Linked DNA regions of Homo sapiens. The protein of the gene in region 1 interacts with the protein of each later gene in a pairwise test. Each region holds a gene or a part of one and is shown in the gene's direction. Other genes may lie near its edges.

Region 1 (5,066 bases):
ACTTACATTCCACTGTATGCAGTAAATACAAAATGAACAGAGGTTTAGAATGTTATTATTGTGAGTCTGAAGCTAAACACTAGTTTGAACTATAAAGATATTTTAACAGTCTTTTTATGAAAAGGTATTACGTCTATAATGTCACTGGACCCTGAAAGTTAGCACTGAAAAGGAATACTGATTTTGTTTTTGAGTCCCCTTCTGTGCAGAATGTTTTATTTCCAGTTGCACCAGTTCAACTTAATATATATTATATACAGTTTGTTTGTGAGACATTGGATTGGTTATTGATAGTGGATACAAAAATGAGCAATATTCTGTTCTTGCCCTCAGGAAGTTTACAGTTTAATAAGGCAGATAAGCAGGATTACTTATAAATCTAATATTAGGCAAATGTAGGTGCCACACAAGAATATTTGTAAAGGCCAGGCACCGTGGCACATGCCTGTAATCCTAGCATTTTGGGATGCCAAGACAGGAGAATCACATGAGCCCAGGAGTTCGAGACCTGTAGTCCCAGCTACTCTAGAGGCTCAAGTAGGAGGATCACCTGAGCCTAGGAGGTGGAGACTGCAATGAGCTGTGATGATGCCACTGCACTACAGCCTAGGCAACAGAATGAGACCTGGTCTCAAAAAAAAAAAAAAGGAAAAAAGAAAAGAAAAACAGTAAAAACAACTTGGAGAATTAAGATGAGGGAATCTGATTGGAAGGAAATAATTAAAAGAGACATGAGGTACCATTTAAGATGGTCACCAAAAGATGCATGCTTGCACGTGGAGATGGGCTGGCAGAAACAGTATTACCAGAGGTATATCTGGGTGAAAACAAAGACTCAGTCTGAACAGTAATACATTGCCTTTTTCCTGGGGTATAAGGTATGTTAAGGGAGGAACCAGGTAAGGAAGCGAGTAAAAGATTGAGCTAGGTCCCTGGATAAGTCCAATCAAGATGACAGCCTTGAATCTCAAGAGGAGGAAATGGAAGGCCCAGAGGAAGGAATGGATTAAATCTTGTTTTCTTCAGTTCAGAGTGTAATGTCACAGATTACACTCAAAGATTCCTATGATAGCAAAACTAGGAGGGTCTAGAATTTTTGCTGCTTCTTGAGTCTTTTAGTGGAAAGAACATCAAACTAGAAATCAGAAGATCCAGGCTGTAGCCCCACAGGCTCCCCTGGTTGCTGGTAACTTTAGGCAAATAACTGTATTCTTCTAGCTCTTAGTTTTTTCAACTCTAAGTCAAGTGGGTTGTAGTAAATCAGTGATTTCCAACTCTGGCTGCCCATTAGGGTCACCCAAGAAGCTTTTTAAAAATTGTAGATGTTTGCCTCTACTCCTGAAATTCTAGTTTAATTGATCTGTCTAGGGCCCAGGCATTGGAATTTAAAAAAATTTTTTAATAAGTTTAAATTTTTCTGTCAGTTTCGGGTTCACAGTATAGGGGAGAAAACATAATTTAGTTTCTTTCCCTTTTAGGTTCTTAGTTGAGACACTCTGCTGAAAACAAAAGTCAGATTAACAAAAGAAAAACAAGCAGAAGTTTATTAACACATGCTGTACTCATCACACAGGAAAGGCCTCAGTTCAAAAGCATTTCTATCTCAAGGCAGTGGCTTATGGCCTTACTGAATAGTATTTCAACCAAGGGCCATAAATCCTATACAGTGACAAGACGAAGGAAAAGTTCCAGTCTTTAAAAGGTGGGAAAATGTGGGAAGATAGTAAAATCTGTTCTCAGATTCCTCTGGTGCCTGCTGATGCCTTCTCTGGGCTCAGAAGCAAGTGCTGTTCTAGGAAGGAAGGATTTATGTGCTGCCATCAGGCAATTGGAGGCTATGGCAGAGTCTTCCCCTGCATTTTCAGTATCTTTAACTTAACATCCTCAATTATTTTGGGGAGAAATATTTTTGTTTCCTTCAACAGCAAAACTGAGTGGAAAGTACATAGATTTTCTATGTACTCCCTGCCCCAACACATGCATAGCCTTCCTCATAATCAACATCCTGCCCCAGTGTGGTACATTTATTACAATTGATGAACTTACGTTGACAAACCGTTGTCACCCAAAGGTCCTAGTTTACATTAGGGTTCACTCTTGATGTTGTACGTCCTATGGGTTTGGACAAATGTATAATGACATGTATCCACCATTGTAGTATCATCCCTCATCCCTGCCTATTCATCCCTCATTGGGTTTGCTTGTTTGTTTGTTTGTTTTTTAAAGCTCTCAGTTGATTCTCATTTGCAGCCTGGGTTGAGAATCACTGACCAGTTGATTTCTAAAATCCCTTTCAGCTTTAATGATTTGTCATCCTAAAATATTTTGGTTTTTAGCCTGCCCTAGGGATTAATACTGATTTGGATGACTGCTTTGAGAAATATAGACACTGGCCATGAGCTACAACCTTTAAAACAGTGGTTTTTAGACATTTTTCCATTTCGGCACACCTGAGGCTACTATATATAACACCTGGAAACAGTGAGTCAGCTCAGTGGTGATTCAGTTGGGGGTTAGGACTGTATCAAAATCTCTCAAGGGGATATGGATATAGTTTGGAAAAATTCCTCAGGTGTTTCTACTGGTTCCAAGAGGGAAGAATGGAGCCCTGTGGGGAATGGTGGTTAACATTACTGAAGAATTTGAAACAAATAAAAATGCAGCCACAATCAGGATCATTGGTAGTAAAATGAGTATGCATGAAAATCACAAGAAGCTCACTAAAAATTCAGGGTTTTGTGCCCAATTCCCACAGATTCTGGTTCTATAGGTCTGAGACGTAGGAATCTATATTGTTAAAAACACTCTGAGAAAGTCGACATCCTGCAGGTGCTAAAGGGTCCACATTTTAAGAAATCTGAATTCTCAAGTATTCAGTTGTATGACACAACATTCTAGAAACTTAGTAGCAAATATTTCTTGGCATATTTCTTGGGACCTTAAAAGCCAGGCTAAGAACCAGAAAATGCTGTGTAATGTCTGCTTTCTCATGAGAGTCTGTTTTTGTATTGTTATTCATACTTTATAAGAAGAGTCACTGAACCAGTTAGGGGGGTTGTGTGGGTTTCTTTTTTTCTTTTTTCTTTTATGTTTTTTTTAAGCTATGATGAGGTGTTAGAATTGGAGCCTTAGTTTTTACATTATCAGTTGTCTTATATCAGACTCACAACTTTCTCACCCTGACCAACAGTTCCTGTTACCAAACCTCATGAGTCATGGCTTCTGTTTCACTGTCACAGATGCTGTAAAATGATAGTCAAATATTTTAAAGCTAATGGTGGCAAGTTTTATTCTGAATAATACATAGGCATATATTACAGACTAAATTAGATAATTTTCTCTTTTTTTCCTGTTATGTTCATTTTCATTATAGGTTCAATATGGAATTTTTCCAGATAACTTTACATTCAATTTACTGATGGATTCTTTCATAAAGAAAGAAAATTACAAAGGTAAGAAACTAACCCCAGATTCAGTGTTTATAGGGCTTCCAGCTCCCAAAGGGAGGTGTACAAATGTAGGAACTTCCCCTTTTTTATTTCTTAATAACATCTCTTCATTACTCGTTTAGTCAGAAAAGTTTTGATGATTATCTTTTATGCAAAATTTTTAAAAACATTATTTTTATTTTAAGATAGAAAATATCAAAGTACATAAATGATTATGGAGGAAAAGTAAGTTAATTATACAGGCCAATCTAATTTCACTTCCCAAACTGACTGAAATGCAGAATATAAATAAAGGATAAAGTAAATTTATTTTTCAAGTATAATTTTGGATTCAGTAATGAACAGTTGGCAGAAATGAGATTTTTTTTTTCAACTGAATTTTTAGCCTATGCTCTTTTAAAATATTACTGGCTTGTTTGTTTGTGTAAAAGAAAATCCCTTCCAGGTTCTTATTTTTCTACTGACTTATTAGATGACTACCTGGTCTGCCTATCTCAGTTTCCCCATTTGCAAAAAGAACATAGAAATCCATGCGTGTGGCCTCATTCAGAACCATGACATGTGCAAAACCAGCTGGGTAGGAACAGCTGCAAATCAGTGCTATTTTATAGTTATGAATATATGTAAAAATTGGTTAAAAAAATAATTCAGTAAGTAAAAAACATTTGTTGTGCTTGTGATATGAACAGGCACTATATTTTAAGCCATTGTTAATATTCTCTGCTTTACCACCAAGTAACTACAGAAAGGAAATTGTTTGACTTGATTTTCTTGGCCTCCATCTATGTTGTAGAATATCAAGGGAAAATAAAAATTGCTTAAAGCCTGCTCTCCAGGCTTTAATGACCAGCATTAATGTGCAAACAAATATTTTATGTTACGTGTTATACTCAGGGGCTTATAATTTATGAACGAGCATTTCCCATTCCCTTCCAACAAGTATTTTAAACTGAGCCTTATTGTCCTTTTTATAGTCATTATTTTGCTGTCTTTGAAATAACACCTGAGATTTAGGGTTTCCTTTAGCATTTTGTCCTCTTCTGCCTTAACAGTGAGAAGGTACCAGAGCAGAGAATAGGGCAGTCAGACCAGCCTGTCTGCTCTGCCTGTCAGGGTGACCTTGAGAATATATGTGTCTCCTTTATGCCTTAGCTGTTCTAGCTGGTAGACATGATGCCTTAAATTTGCATCACAGTTTGAGCCATTTTCTGGTTGAACTGTCCAAAATTCTCTTGAAGTAGGTGAAGCAAATAGTATTTTATCATTATGACGATGATACTGGGAGCCAAGAGAAATGAGTGGTTTATTTAATGTCCTTCAGGACGTTGGTGCAGTAGCACCTGATTTAGTTCGTTCTGGTATGTAAAATAGAAGCTAAAGGCTGAGGAAAAACCTTGTTTGTGGAAGAACTAGGGCCAGAGCCTAAGCCCGCATATTTTACTTCTTAATTCTGCATTTTTTTAAACCATGCCCCACGTTTTAAGAGTGTTTATAGTTAAATAGAGATTTAGTAATATTACCTACAACTAATTTCCTCTCTTTTTTACTTTCATCTTCTGCTAGATGCTTTATCTGTGGTTTTTGAGGTCATGATGCAAGAAGCCTTTGAAGTGCCTT
Region 2 (3,881 bases), on another chromosome or scaffold:
AATATGTCACCTCTTCATACTCATATTGGTGAAGGGTCCTAGCTTCAAAATTAATAGATTCCTAAAGAGGGGAAATGAAACATCCGCATTTACACACACACACACACACACACACACAGAGTTCCTCTTGTCGGTAAGTTTTGTTTTTTTTAAATCTCTACTAGATAAAATTTGTTATCTAATTGTGAGTTTTACACAAAGAAAAACTGTCACAGAAAAGAAAGACAGTGTCACATTTTTCAAAAGAAAAAGAAGAAAAGAAAGTGCCATGTTTTTCAAATACAAATGTTCTGGATTGATTTTAGGATCTTTAGTGAAAAACAAAGTATTTCATAATAAGTAAAATAAAAATCTATGTAGGTAAATTTGTTTCTCTAATTTAAGAATTTGAATTTCTGAGTATTTATGATAAGTGTTGAAATAACTTCTTATATGTGACAGTGAATACTGGCAGAGCAAATGCCAAATCAATGCCAAATCTGTAGGATCATTTGATTGTAGGAACAGAATTCTACTCAAACCGAAAGCAGGCATTTGCTGGAGTTACAGAAAGGCCTCATGGAACACCGAGAAGGTGGTGCCATTCGACTCTTAAAGAAGCTGCAACAGGCACAAGAGAGTCAGCTGCAGCTCTTCTTCTTGAGTCTATATCTGTCCTGGGTCCATTCCTTTTTGTGGTTGCTTCATTCCTTTCTCTCTCTGAAGACTGGTTTTTCTGGTCTACCAGGGCTATGCCACATTGACTTTATGTAGTGTCTCCATTCTGGCCTCCTGAATTTACAGGAGAGTTCCTCTGTACAAACTCAAAGTCCTGGAGAGAACAGAAAACAGCTTCCTTTTGGCTCAGGGGTCCAACTGCAGTCTACTCTGCTGCTATGAGGATAGTGGGTTCACCACCTTTGTTGTTCTCTCAGCTAGGGCAGTGGGAAATGACTCTATGAAAGGAATATACATGGGCAGGCAAATGTACTAATCCTCATCAGTACTGTAATTTTAAGCAACTTTAAAAAATTCTTTTAAGTTATTTGAAAATAAGATCAAAGAAGGCTGAATTACATAAATGAAGATTTGTTAACAATTAATTCAAACCAATATAACACATGCTATAACATGGTTGAGTGTGATTGAGTCTTGATTTATTAGGGGCAATAATCAAAACATTTAACAATCATTATAGTACAGAACTTACCAATCAAATCAGATGCTCAGCCGGAGTGGATGTTGGCCACCCAGCTATTATTATCCCTGGCTCAATTGGTCTTCAGCTGTGTTAACTTGCAAACATTAATTAACTATCTAAGCCCCTCATTTTCCTCAAGTGTAAATAGACACAATAATATTACCTATTCCATAGGTGTGGGGTGAATAGTAAATGTAATAATTTGTCCAAAACACTTAGTATAGTGCCTGGTCCATGGTAAATACTAAATAAATGTTATCTGACTTATTATTAAAATTTTATCTTCTCAGCTTAACCTTCAGAACAGTAATATATTGGGGTCTAGATAAATCTTGCCTATATGAAAATAATTTAATACTACATGCAGATATATGCTGTGTATATTATGCCTTCTGTTAGAGGAATTGCAGAAACAAAAATTTCAATTAATAATAAGATGAATTATTTCTCCCAATTGTAGAATCTTTTGACAATTTTATCATGCATTACAGATGTAAGAACTCTTGATTGGGACTTGATAGTCTAACTTTATAATAATTTAAGAACATTCCTCTTAGAGAATTTCTATGGCCATAATACTGAACACATGAATTTTAATTAGCTGTCCTCTTTAGCCCTAAAAAAAAAATTACTGTAATTTAACACTTAAGTGTTGTTCTTCCCAGGTACAGTAATCTTTTTTTTTTTTTTTTTTTTTTTTTGCATAGAGGGTAATCTTTTCTCTTTCCAAATGGCAGAACTGTTAGTTTTCTGACTGTCCGGTGAAATTCTAAGTCCACTTACTTCCCAATAGCATGCAATTAGCAAAGGTCCTCCTTGCAAAGGCACAGAACACACCTAAACATCTTGCAGATGCTGTTTGGACACTCTTCCCCTGCTTTTGGTCTCTTTGTAAAGCAGCTCATCTGGATACAGGATCTCTTTTCCCCATTGCCCATTCTAATATATGTTACCGTTATTACTTATAGAATAATAGTAGAAGAGACAAATATGGTACCTACCCATTACCAACAACACCTCCAATACCAGTAACATTTTTTAAAAAGGGCAACACTTTCCTAATATTCAATCGCTCTTTGATTTAAAATCCTGGTTGAATACTTACTATATGCAGAGCATTATTCTATTAGTAGATGCTGTGATGAACTGAGATTTAAAAATTGTTAAAATTAGCATAAAATTGAAATGTAAATTTAATGTGATATGTGCCCTAGGAGAAGTGTGAATAAAGTCGTTCACAGAAGAGAGAAATAACATGAGGTTCATTTACGTCTTTTGTGCATCTATAGGAGAAGGAGAAGGAAGAGTTGGTATTATCCTGACTTTAGCCATGAATATCATGAGTACATTGCAGTGGGCTGTAAACTCCAGCATAGATGTGGATAGCTTGGTAAGTCTTATCATCTTTTTAACTTTTATGAAAAAAATTCAGACAAGTAACAAAGTATGAGTAATAGCATGAGGAAGAACTATATACCGTATATTGAGCTTAAGAAATAAAACATTACAGATAAATTGAGGGTCACTGTGTATCTGTCATTAAATCCTTATCTCTTCTTTCCTTCTCATAGATAGCCACTATGAAGATCTAATACTGCAGTGAGCATTCTTTCACCTGTTTCCTTATTCAGGATTTTCTAGGAGAAATACCTAGGGGTTGTATTGCTGGGTCATAGGATTCACCCATGCTTAACTGAGTGGTGCCAAATTGTCCTCAAGTCTGTTGTACTGATATATATCCCCATCAAGAGAGTACAAGAATTCTCATAGCTATGTATCTTCAACAACACTTGGTGTCTGGTAGATGTGAAGTGATTACTAAAAATATAGGGAAGCTGCATACATAATTATTGGCTTTTGCTGTTCTCTTACATTAATTTCTTATTCATGTTGATTACTCATTTGTCACCTAGTTTTTTCTTCCTTAATTAAATTGTAGGAATTTATGAATTATGGATTGATCATCAGCTCTATACATTTCAAACATAATCCCTCAGTCAGTGGCTTGGCTTATAGAGTCTTTTGATGAAAAGAAGCTTTTAAGTTTAATAAAGTTCAATTTATTGTCTTTTCCTTTATGTTTTGTGCTTTTGGTATCTTGATTAAGAACTCCTTCCTTATATTGGGTTCTCAAATTTAGCAGCATAACATTTTCATACTATTATTTAAATTTTTTTCACATTATTTAGTGATAGCACCTTTCTTATTCCTAAAGTGTTTATCATTGCCTTCTGTCTTTCTGCTTGATAAATATTGCCACACATTTGTATACTTTATTAGTGTGTACAAAGACCACATTTTAGTTGTGTTATTTCTCTTGTTTTGGTTTTCTAGAATGCAGAGCCATTAATATTATAGTAATGCTTATGTGCTAATACCATATCAGGGGCACAAATCCCATTGCAGCGGGACTGAGAAATTAAAGGAAATGATGCACATTTACTCATTTTTGTTTAAAAAATCAAATGCATATTTTTCAATCAGACTATATGGTTGGTCTGGATAGCTTCATCATTGAATTTTTAAAGTATTTTTGTACTACTGTATTTAAAATTATTCATTCACCACTGCTTTTGTAGATGGTTTAGAAACCCAAGTTAGGAATGACTGTGCAACACTATTATTATACTCTTTTTAAAATTATACTTTTTGCTTAAGTTTCTTTCCTTGTTCTCTGAGACAGTGTTCATGTTCCCAAACC
Region 3 (4,396 bases), on another chromosome or scaffold:
TCCGTCTCAAAAAAAAAAAAAAAAAGATACTGTAGGCAGAGTATGAATACATTAACTTCATACTCCTCTCTTACCAGCTTCTAGCCACTTCTGTATTTTATGGTGCTGCCTATTTATAGTCTTATGACTATTTTTTTAAGTGAGAACCGTGCTATTTGCCTTTAGAAATAATTGTTCACCAAAAAATTCCCCCACAGTTCCTTCACATGGGTAAACAAAGTGCAAAAGGAAACCAAGGTTTGACACTTGGGCTTGAAAAAATTTTAAAAAGTAATATAAAATGGGTTAGATTCTAGGAGTTGAAACCATTTGGGGAAACTACAAGGGCTAATTCCAGGTGTTGGGTAGGAAATGTACAAAGTTAAGCTTGTGTTATCAAAGCAAGAAAGCATTCAAGGACTAATAGGGATACATGAAAGACACAGATGGCTTAATGTGGCTTCCACTGGCCACATTTGGGACAATTTGAGCATCAACAAGAATTATGATGTTAAAGGAGTATATTATATTGAATTAAAAAAAAACCTTAAATCAATAACTTTAAAAACACCTTGATTCCCATAGTGAAGCAAACACTAAAATGGAGGTGTGGAAAGAATGCCAGTTAATAAACATAAAAGGCATGATACTATTGCGGAATCACTTATAACTCCTAATGTAACAACAGATTCAGTGAAGGACTGTATCAAGGAGTTGGGGAACAGGTTATTCTTATGGACTCAAGGTATAATCCACAGATTGCTTACCAATTCCTAAGAGGAAAATGTACTATTAGAATGAAGAGATGTAGCCACCACCTTTACCAAGTGATCAAATTTAGCATTACTAATATAACTGAGTTATGCGTCCCCGTGAGTTGGCAACATCTCTTAGGTAGTATTGCAAAAGTGCTCAAACTGAATCTAATCATGAGGGAAACAAAATCTGACAAATCCAGAATGAGAGAGATTCTACAAGACAACTGGCCTAGGCTCATCACAACATGTAATGATTTAATAATTTAAAAAGGAGGGTGAAGGAGGCTGATCTGGATTAAAAGAGACAATAACTAATTATAGCTTATGAGTTGAAAAAATAAAACTGCTATAGAAATAATTTTGGGGACAATGGGGAAATTTGAATATGAACTGTATAATAAATGATTTTATGGACTTACTAATTTTCTTAGGTTTGATCATGTATTGCGGTTACACAGGAAAATGTTCTTATTCTTAGAACATGCATGCTAACATATTTGGGGGTGAAAAATCTGCAACTTACTTTCAAAGAATTCAGCAAAAATCATTGGGTGGGGCTGTGAATGTGGAGAGAAGAGACGGAGAGAAATCAAACCTGGCAAAATGTTAACAATGAGCTGAAGGACGGCTAAACGAAAGCTCATTGTACTATTTTTAAAACTTTTCTGTAGCTATAAGCCGTTTTTTCTGAGGAAGTCGAGGAGGGCGAATATCTTTCTGGAAAGGCCAGAGCAAATGCACGCAAGAGCTGAGAAAAGATTGGAAAACGCCTCTCAAAATAACAGTCCCGCCCTTCCCGGGACTCTTCCCTATAGGCTGTTCAAGTCACGTGGCGACTGTGGCCCCGCCCACAGCTCCCAGAGGCCTGCGCGTGCGGTCTGCAGTTCGGCCGCTTCCTCTTGGCGGGTGGGCTGCAGCTATGGAGGGCGAGCCTCCACCTGTGGAGGAGCGGCGGCGGCTGCAGGAGGAGCTGAACGAGTTCGTGGAGAGCGGCTGCCGGACGTTGGAGGAGGTGACCGCGTCCCTGGGCTGGGACCTAGATAGTCTGGATCCCGGGGAAGAGGAGGCGGCGGAGGTGAGGAGCGCGGCCGCGGGGCCCTTTCGGGGACTATCGGCCCGGGGTCTTCTCTGGAAGAAGGGAGATCCGCACTGGCAGCCGCGGAGGGAAGGGCGAGGAGTCCTCGTCCGTGTGCAGAGCCGCGATGGGCGCCTGGGACCCGAGGGGCGCCGGGGGCCCTGGAGCAACCCTGACGTCCCTGGGTTCCGGGCTGGGGCGCGCGAGGAACTCCCGAAGGCTCCACATCGACCTCCAGTGCGGCGCTCCTCCCGCGCAACTTCGAGTTTAAAGAAAACCGGGGGCCGGGCGCGGTGGCGCACGCCTGTAATCCTAGCACTTTGAGAGGCCAAGGCGGGAGGATCCCTTGAGCCCAGGAGTTCCAGACTAGCCTGGGCAACATGGTGAAACCTCTTCTCTACCAAAAGTACAAAAATTAGCCGGGTGTGGTGGTGTGAGCCTGTGGCCCCAGCTATTTGGGAGGCTGGGGTGGAAGGATAGCTTGAGCCCAGGAGGTCGAGGCTGCAGTGAGCCGAGATCGCTCCACTGCATTCCAGCCTGGGCGACAGAGCAAGACCCTGTCTCAAAAAACAAACAAACAAAATCCAGGAAGGTGTGTTGAGTGAGGAGGGAATGGCAGATTTGGTATTTATTTAGAAAATAAGTGAACGTGTCTCAGAGCGCTGCAGAGGGATTGGCGGTTTGCATTGTCATCTGTCATACGGATTCCGCAGTTGCACCAGATTCGGTGTCAGGAGAGCTGGGAGTTTGCCAGTTCGCCTTTCTGTGCCTTAAAATTGGACACTTCTGACTGGGACAGCACCAATTCTAGGATTATTAAAGGTTGTCACCAAGAGGTGGTAACTGGCAACTCCTGTGGACATTAGAATTGCTTTTTTAAAAATGTAGGCAAGTGTATTTAGAGTGAACATTCGTGATTTTTGTTTTTTTGTGGGGTATTTTCGGTGGAATGAGAGGAAGGGAAGTGCTCCAATGTGGGGTAATTCATTATCTTTACTATTACTTCTGGGTTTACCATGCTGTGATAATTTCTCCTGGGTTTAAGTTACATGACTGATTCCTCAGAGGCATTTAAAATATATTTGATTTCTGTATATACCATTCATTGTTTATTGTATTAAAAGCACAGAGGAAATTAAAAAATCTTTAATATTCATTTAGAGGGGTATTTGAAGCTGGGAATTCCACTGAGTGGGGCTTACCAGACCCTTCCATACATTGTTTACTCAGCATTGCGGTAACATTGGATTCCTTGTATTAACGTTTAAATAGCACTTTGTTTGCCACTTACATTACTTCATTTAATACTCAAAATAACCCTATGAGGTAGGTATCTTTGGCCACATTTTATAGACGAGGAAAGGAACACAGAAGTGATAATTTGTCGAAGGATACACTGCTAGTAAATGGCAGTTAGGATTTCCGCCGGTGTTTTAGTACTGAAATTTAGTGAACAACAGTCCTAGTTGTCATCTGTTCCTAGTTGTCACCTAGTTCCTAGTCCTCACAGAGCTAGTCCTAGTTGTCACCTAGTTCCTAGTCCTAGTTGTCACCTAGTTCCTAGTCCTCACAGAGCTTATTGTCTGGTGGTGATGAGGGGTAATACGGATAACTGAACCATTATATTATCATGGGTCTGTGATGGGTGGGGTTGGAATTGCTATAGTACAGTTTATTGTAGGCGGTGGTGGACAAAGTGGTGGTCAGCAAAGGCTTCCTGGACAAAGTGAATTCTAAGCTGATAAATAAAAGTGAGTTGAATTGGCTAGGGGGTTGGCGGGTGCGGGGAAGAAGCATCAACAGCATGTGTAGAAGTTCAGAGACAGGGAGTGACCAGATCGGGAAGCCTCAAGTAGTTAAGGATAGCTAGAGCATAGAGTGTAGAGTTAGAGTAGAATGGTGATGGTGGGTAGAGGTCAGATCTTAAAGGTCCTTGTCAGCCATATTAGAAAGTCTAGATTTTTTTTTTTTTTTTTAATGAAGGCAGTGGGGAGGTATGGAATTATTTTAAGCCAGGGCATATTATAATCACATTTACCTTTTAATAAAATAATAGCATACATTTATTGAATGCTTGCTATGTACCAGGCCCTATTTGAATTCCTTTATGTGTATAAACTTTGGTATACTTTTTTAAATCTTCACAATCACTTTGTGAGAGAGGTCCTGCTATTATTTTTATTTTATATAATAGAAAATGAGGCAAAGAGAGATTAAGTACCTCACCCAGTTTCATGCAGCCAGTAAGTGGCAGAGATGGAATTCAAACCAGCTACAGGATGGAAACTGAAGGGGAGGGCAGCAAGACTGGAAGCAGAGAGAGAGAGCAAGAGTGAGAGAGAGCGAGCGAGCGTAGTCAGGAGATGGTGTTGTATTCCAGGAGAGAGTTGATGATACCCTGAGTTGGGGAAGTGGCAGTGGGGATGGAGGATGTTGAGGGATTTTCAGAAATATTTAGGAGTTAAATTGGCAGGACTAGGTGATTGATTGGACGTGGGTGATGAGGGAGAAGTAGTTTCTTGCTTGAGCAAGGGGGACCTTTCACTGAAATAGAAAAGTACAAAAGGAATAGATTTGAGGGTTG
Region 4 (3,881 bases), on another chromosome or scaffold:
CGGGTGGATCACCTGAGGTCAGGGGTTCGAGACCAGCTTGACCAACAAGGTGAAACCTCGTCTCTACTAAAAAATACAAAAATTAGCCAGTTGTGATGGCGGGCGTCTGTAGTCCCAGCTACTCGGAAGGCTGATACAGGAGAATTGCTTGAACCCGGGAGGCAGAAGTTGCAGTGAGCCAAGATCGCGCCACTGCACTCCAGCCTGGGTGACAGAGCGAGACCCCATCTCAAAAAAAAAAAAAATAGTGCTGGTGAATCAGTCCCCGTGGGAACTGGTTACAGTGAAAGGTCTGACTCCACTACAGTGCAGAGTAGGTGGGACATCCTGCATTGCAAACAAGCTCCTGCAGGACCCAAACAGCTCCTGTGAATAGCAAGGTCTTAGCGCACAGGTGTCAACATTGGGCCTGGGAGGCTTTAAAAATGCTGAAATCAGAGTGGGCCTCACAGCAGCTGATTCAGTCACCCTGGGGTGTGGCCCGGGCTGAGGAGGTTTTGAAAGCTCTCCAGGCGATGGTGTTGGAAGGGGCGGAAAGCTGCCTTCGAGCCTCAGCCTGGCAAGCAGCACCTGCCAGCCAGACCTTGAGGAAAGGGGAGCAGCTCTGTCCCACGGATTCAGATGTCACTGGAAAGGCAGAACGAGGAGGCACCTGGTCTTGTAGGTTCAGGCCAGCCTTGGAGCTGCCCTCCACCCATCCCTGCCTAATGCAGCCGGAACTTCGTCTGCGGCTGCTTTTCTGAACTCTTGGCGTCCTGTTTCTCCTCCTGCACCCCAAAATTAACGCAGTCCTGCCCGTGGCTGGCATTGTCACCAGGCCTTGCAAACACCTCTGTCGGACTTTGCCCAACCTCCCTGGAAACACACCAGGGGTTTTGGAAGGACTGCAGTGGTAAAGGTTGTGGCGCTCCCTGGGACACTGATTCGGAGTGTGGTTGTGTGCAGCTGAGCGTTTGGCGGTGGGTGAAGCCACGTGGACTGATGACTGTGGACCTACACCTGCAGGGATGGCCGTGGGCCTGCGTGTGTGTGTCAGCGTGGCTGGGAGCAGGCTGGTGGTACTGGCAGCCGCTTCCACGTGGGTGAGGGGAGGGCCTCTGTCTGCAACATCCCTCATCAGTTCCCCCTGGATCCCAGCCCGGGGAGGGGGAGAGGGAAGGGGGGCTCAGCTTCCCAGGACCCTAAGCTGCTCCTGGGAGAAGAGAAGGATCCCAGTATCCGGTCAGAGGCTGCAGGAAGCGCTTGCCTCTCCCTGGCCCAGGGCTGACTCCGCCTCTCTTTTCTGCAGATTTTCCGCCGTGCGGACAAAAATGGTGAGTTTCCCTTCCAGGCCGACGGCCGCCCCACTCCTTCTGTCCTCGTGCTTCATGGGGAAGGGATCAGGGATAGGAGACAAGCGCAACCTTGAACCTAAAGGTTTGGAGTGCAGGGGTCTGAAGTTAGAAGGCCAAATCCTGCTGCTGCTCTGTGCCTTGACCTCCCTGTCTGTAAAACGGGAATCCTAGTAGGGCCTACTTAGTAGGGACAGCTCCACTCAAGGGCTCAGTGAGTCTTGTCTGTGATGCCAAGAACAATGACTGGCCGTGGTAAGGGCTGGGTGTACTTTAGGCCTTTTCCTAGCTGGGCTGGACCAGAGGAGCCCGGGCTGGGGCCCAGAAACCCTCCTTGAAAGGAAGCCGCCAGCCTCACGCTAGGCCCTTCACAAGCCTTGGTGCAGTTCTTCATCGTAGCAACCTGAGCAGTCAGTGCTCTTGCCTCTGTTGACACCATAGCAGCCCAGAGAGGTTAAGCAATTTGCCCCAGGGTTGCCCAGCTGCATGAAGGAAACGGAGGCTCTCCTGAAGACCGGGGCCCTTTTCCCTTTCTCTCTCAGCCTCTTTAAAAATGTGAGCAGCGCCTTGTTGTGGCCACGGAATTCATAGCGCTCCACTTCTCCCGACTCCTTGGAGGGGCTTCACTTGCAGAAGGAGCCCAGGCCTTGAGAGAATAAGCACGTTTAGGCGGCCCAGCTGAGCCTCGGCTGACAAAAAGCACCTTCTTAAAAATACCAGAATCATTATTACAGTTGCAACGCAACTCACCGTGGACTTGAACCAAGACAGATTCCCTCTCTGGGCCTTGGTTTTCCCGTGGGTAAAGTGGGGCAATAACACTTGCCCTGCCTCCTTCCCTGGGTTTTGGGGAAAAGCCAGAGAGGCGGTGTGGGTGACAAATGTTTTTAAAGAGAATCGCGTGCTCCCGGTATGTTCATTCATTGAGAAAATGCACATCAAGTACCAAGCCTGTGGCAGGGGAAGAGCACGCAACAGAGACCCTGTGACCTGCCCCAGGGCCCTTGGTCCCCAACGCCTCTGGCCCCGGTTCCTCTCCTGCACAAGCTGCAGTTGAGGGTGGCAGCTCTGGCCTGGGTCTCCAGCACCCGCCTCATCCCTGGGAGTTCCTGTTGACGGCTCCCACCCAGGGCGGTTGCAGGGTGGAGTTGGAGGCCTTGGGCATGGTGGGAGGGCAGGTGCACAGGCCTGGGCTGGAATCAGTTCCAACGAGTCTCCCACCCTGGCCTCCTGCATCCCTGGGGGGTGACAGTGACCACTCCCAGGCCTCTGGGGAAGAAGGACCATCAGCAGTGATTCCATACGGAGCAGAGGAGGAATAAGAGGGACGTAGGGAGATGAAGTGGCTCTGGAAAAACAGCCGTAGCATCATGGCCTGAAAAGCCTTGGAGATGAGGAGGGGAAATCAGGGGGCTGTCCCTGAGATGGGGTCGCCGGAGCCCTCAGCGTCATTGCCTGTGTGCTGGCCTGGCTCCTCCAGCAGGTTGAGAGGTAGGGATTTGGGTTTGTCCCTTGTCCCGGGCCTGATACCCAGCACACAGTAGGTCCTCGGTAAATGTCTGTAGACTTGGTGGACGTGTTTGTTGGTGAGAGCGTGGCTGTGCGTATCTCGGTGACTCAGCAGCGTGAGGCTGTTGGGAATGCGTGTGTCCAGCGTGGGCCTCTAGCCATGGCTGTGCATCCCGAGTGTGTGTGCAGTTAGTGTGCGTGTGTGGCTTCCTGAGTGTGCAGCTCTGCAGGAGCCACTGCAGTGTATACACTTGGGCAGGTGGTGCCTGGCCCCCTCGGGCACAGATGGGGTTCTGTCCTTGCTGCAGGCTCCCCCCATCAGAGGCCATGTGTCCACCCCCTGAGCACAGCTGTGGGACTCTCAGTTTCCTTACTGCAGCCTCCTCAAAGGCCGAGCCTGTTCCTTCTCCTTGGGGCTTACATCTTACCAGCCACCACTATGTGACCGTTAGGGGCTGTCACCAGGGTGAATGTGGGTGTGAGATGCGGGTTCCAGCAAGAGCTTCCCAGGTCCCCCAGCCTGACTGCCTAGGCTCAAGTCCTGGCTCAGCCGCGTACCGGCTCTGGCCTCAGGCAAGTCACCAAATTCTGCAGTCTCAGTTTCCTTATCTGTAAATGGGAATAATTACAGCACCCACCTCAGAGGGCTGTCTGAGGATAGATAGTTGCTCTCCTGGCTTCGCTCATTGAAGATATCAATAAGTCCCCGCTGCTCTGCCTCAAATGCCTCGGAAATGGGAGTCCGCAGGTGTGGCTTGTCCAGAGGGGTTTGATTCCTCTGTGCTCAGCAGGGAATTCGGTCTGGGGGAGGCTGCCAGCAGTCACTGAACGTCTGTTATGCACCAGGACTTGAATGTGCTTTTTCCTTTAATCTTCATTGTGATCCTCCTGAGACAAGAAGTATCAACCCCCACCCTCCTTCCAGATGACGAAAACAAGGCTCGGAGATGGCACGTGATATTCTTCACATGGTCGGGGGGCAGCGGTGCAGGCAGGTTCTGATTCAACACAGCAGCTTAAAAGCTTGTAGGAGTGGGGATG

What was found.
Region 2: the proteins of MRPS27 (region 1) and CFTR interact in binary tests that used the Homo sapiens proteins (3 or more experiments, as listed by UniProt).
Region 3: the proteins of MRPS27 (region 1) and SNRNP48 interact in a two-hybrid assay, tested with the Homo sapiens proteins (one large-scale study listed by BioGRID).
Region 4: the proteins of MRPS27 (region 1) and NECAB2 interact in binary tests that used the Homo sapiens proteins (3 or more experiments, as listed by UniProt).

Annotation. Positions count from the first base shown.
Region 1 is NC_000005.10:72,232,505-72,237,570, reverse strand, and holds part of MRPS27 (small ribosomal subunit protein mS27), read left to right. Parts: intron 1-3,373; coding exon 3,374-3,452; intron 3,453-5,012; coding exon 5,013-5,066. UniProt on the Homo sapiens protein: RNA-binding component of the mitochondrial small ribosomal subunit (mt-SSU) that plays a role in mitochondrial protein synthesis. Stimulates mitochondrial mRNA translation of subunit components of the mitochondrial electron transport chain.
Region 2 is NC_000007.14:117,612,144-117,616,024, forward strand, and holds part of CFTR (cystic fibrosis transmembrane conductance regulator), read left to right. Parts: intron 1-2,469; coding exon 2,470-2,570; intron 2,571-3,881. UniProt on the Homo sapiens protein: Epithelial ion channel that plays an important role in the regulation of epithelial ion and water transport and fluid homeostasis. Mediates the transport of chloride ions across the cell membrane.
Region 3 is NC_000006.12:7,588,602-7,592,997, forward strand, and holds the start of SNRNP48 (U11/U12 small nuclear ribonucleoprotein 48 kDa protein), read left to right. Parts: upstream 1-1,596; 5' UTR 1,597-1,656; coding exon 1,657-1,812; intron 1,813-4,396. UniProt on the Homo sapiens protein: Likely involved in U12-type 5' splice site recognition.
Region 4 is NC_000016.10:83,970,863-83,974,743, forward strand, and holds part of NECAB2 (N-terminal EF-hand calcium-binding protein 2), read left to right. Parts: intron 1-1,288; coding exon 1,289-1,313; intron 1,314-3,881. UniProt on the Homo sapiens protein: May act as a signaling scaffold protein that senses intracellular calcium.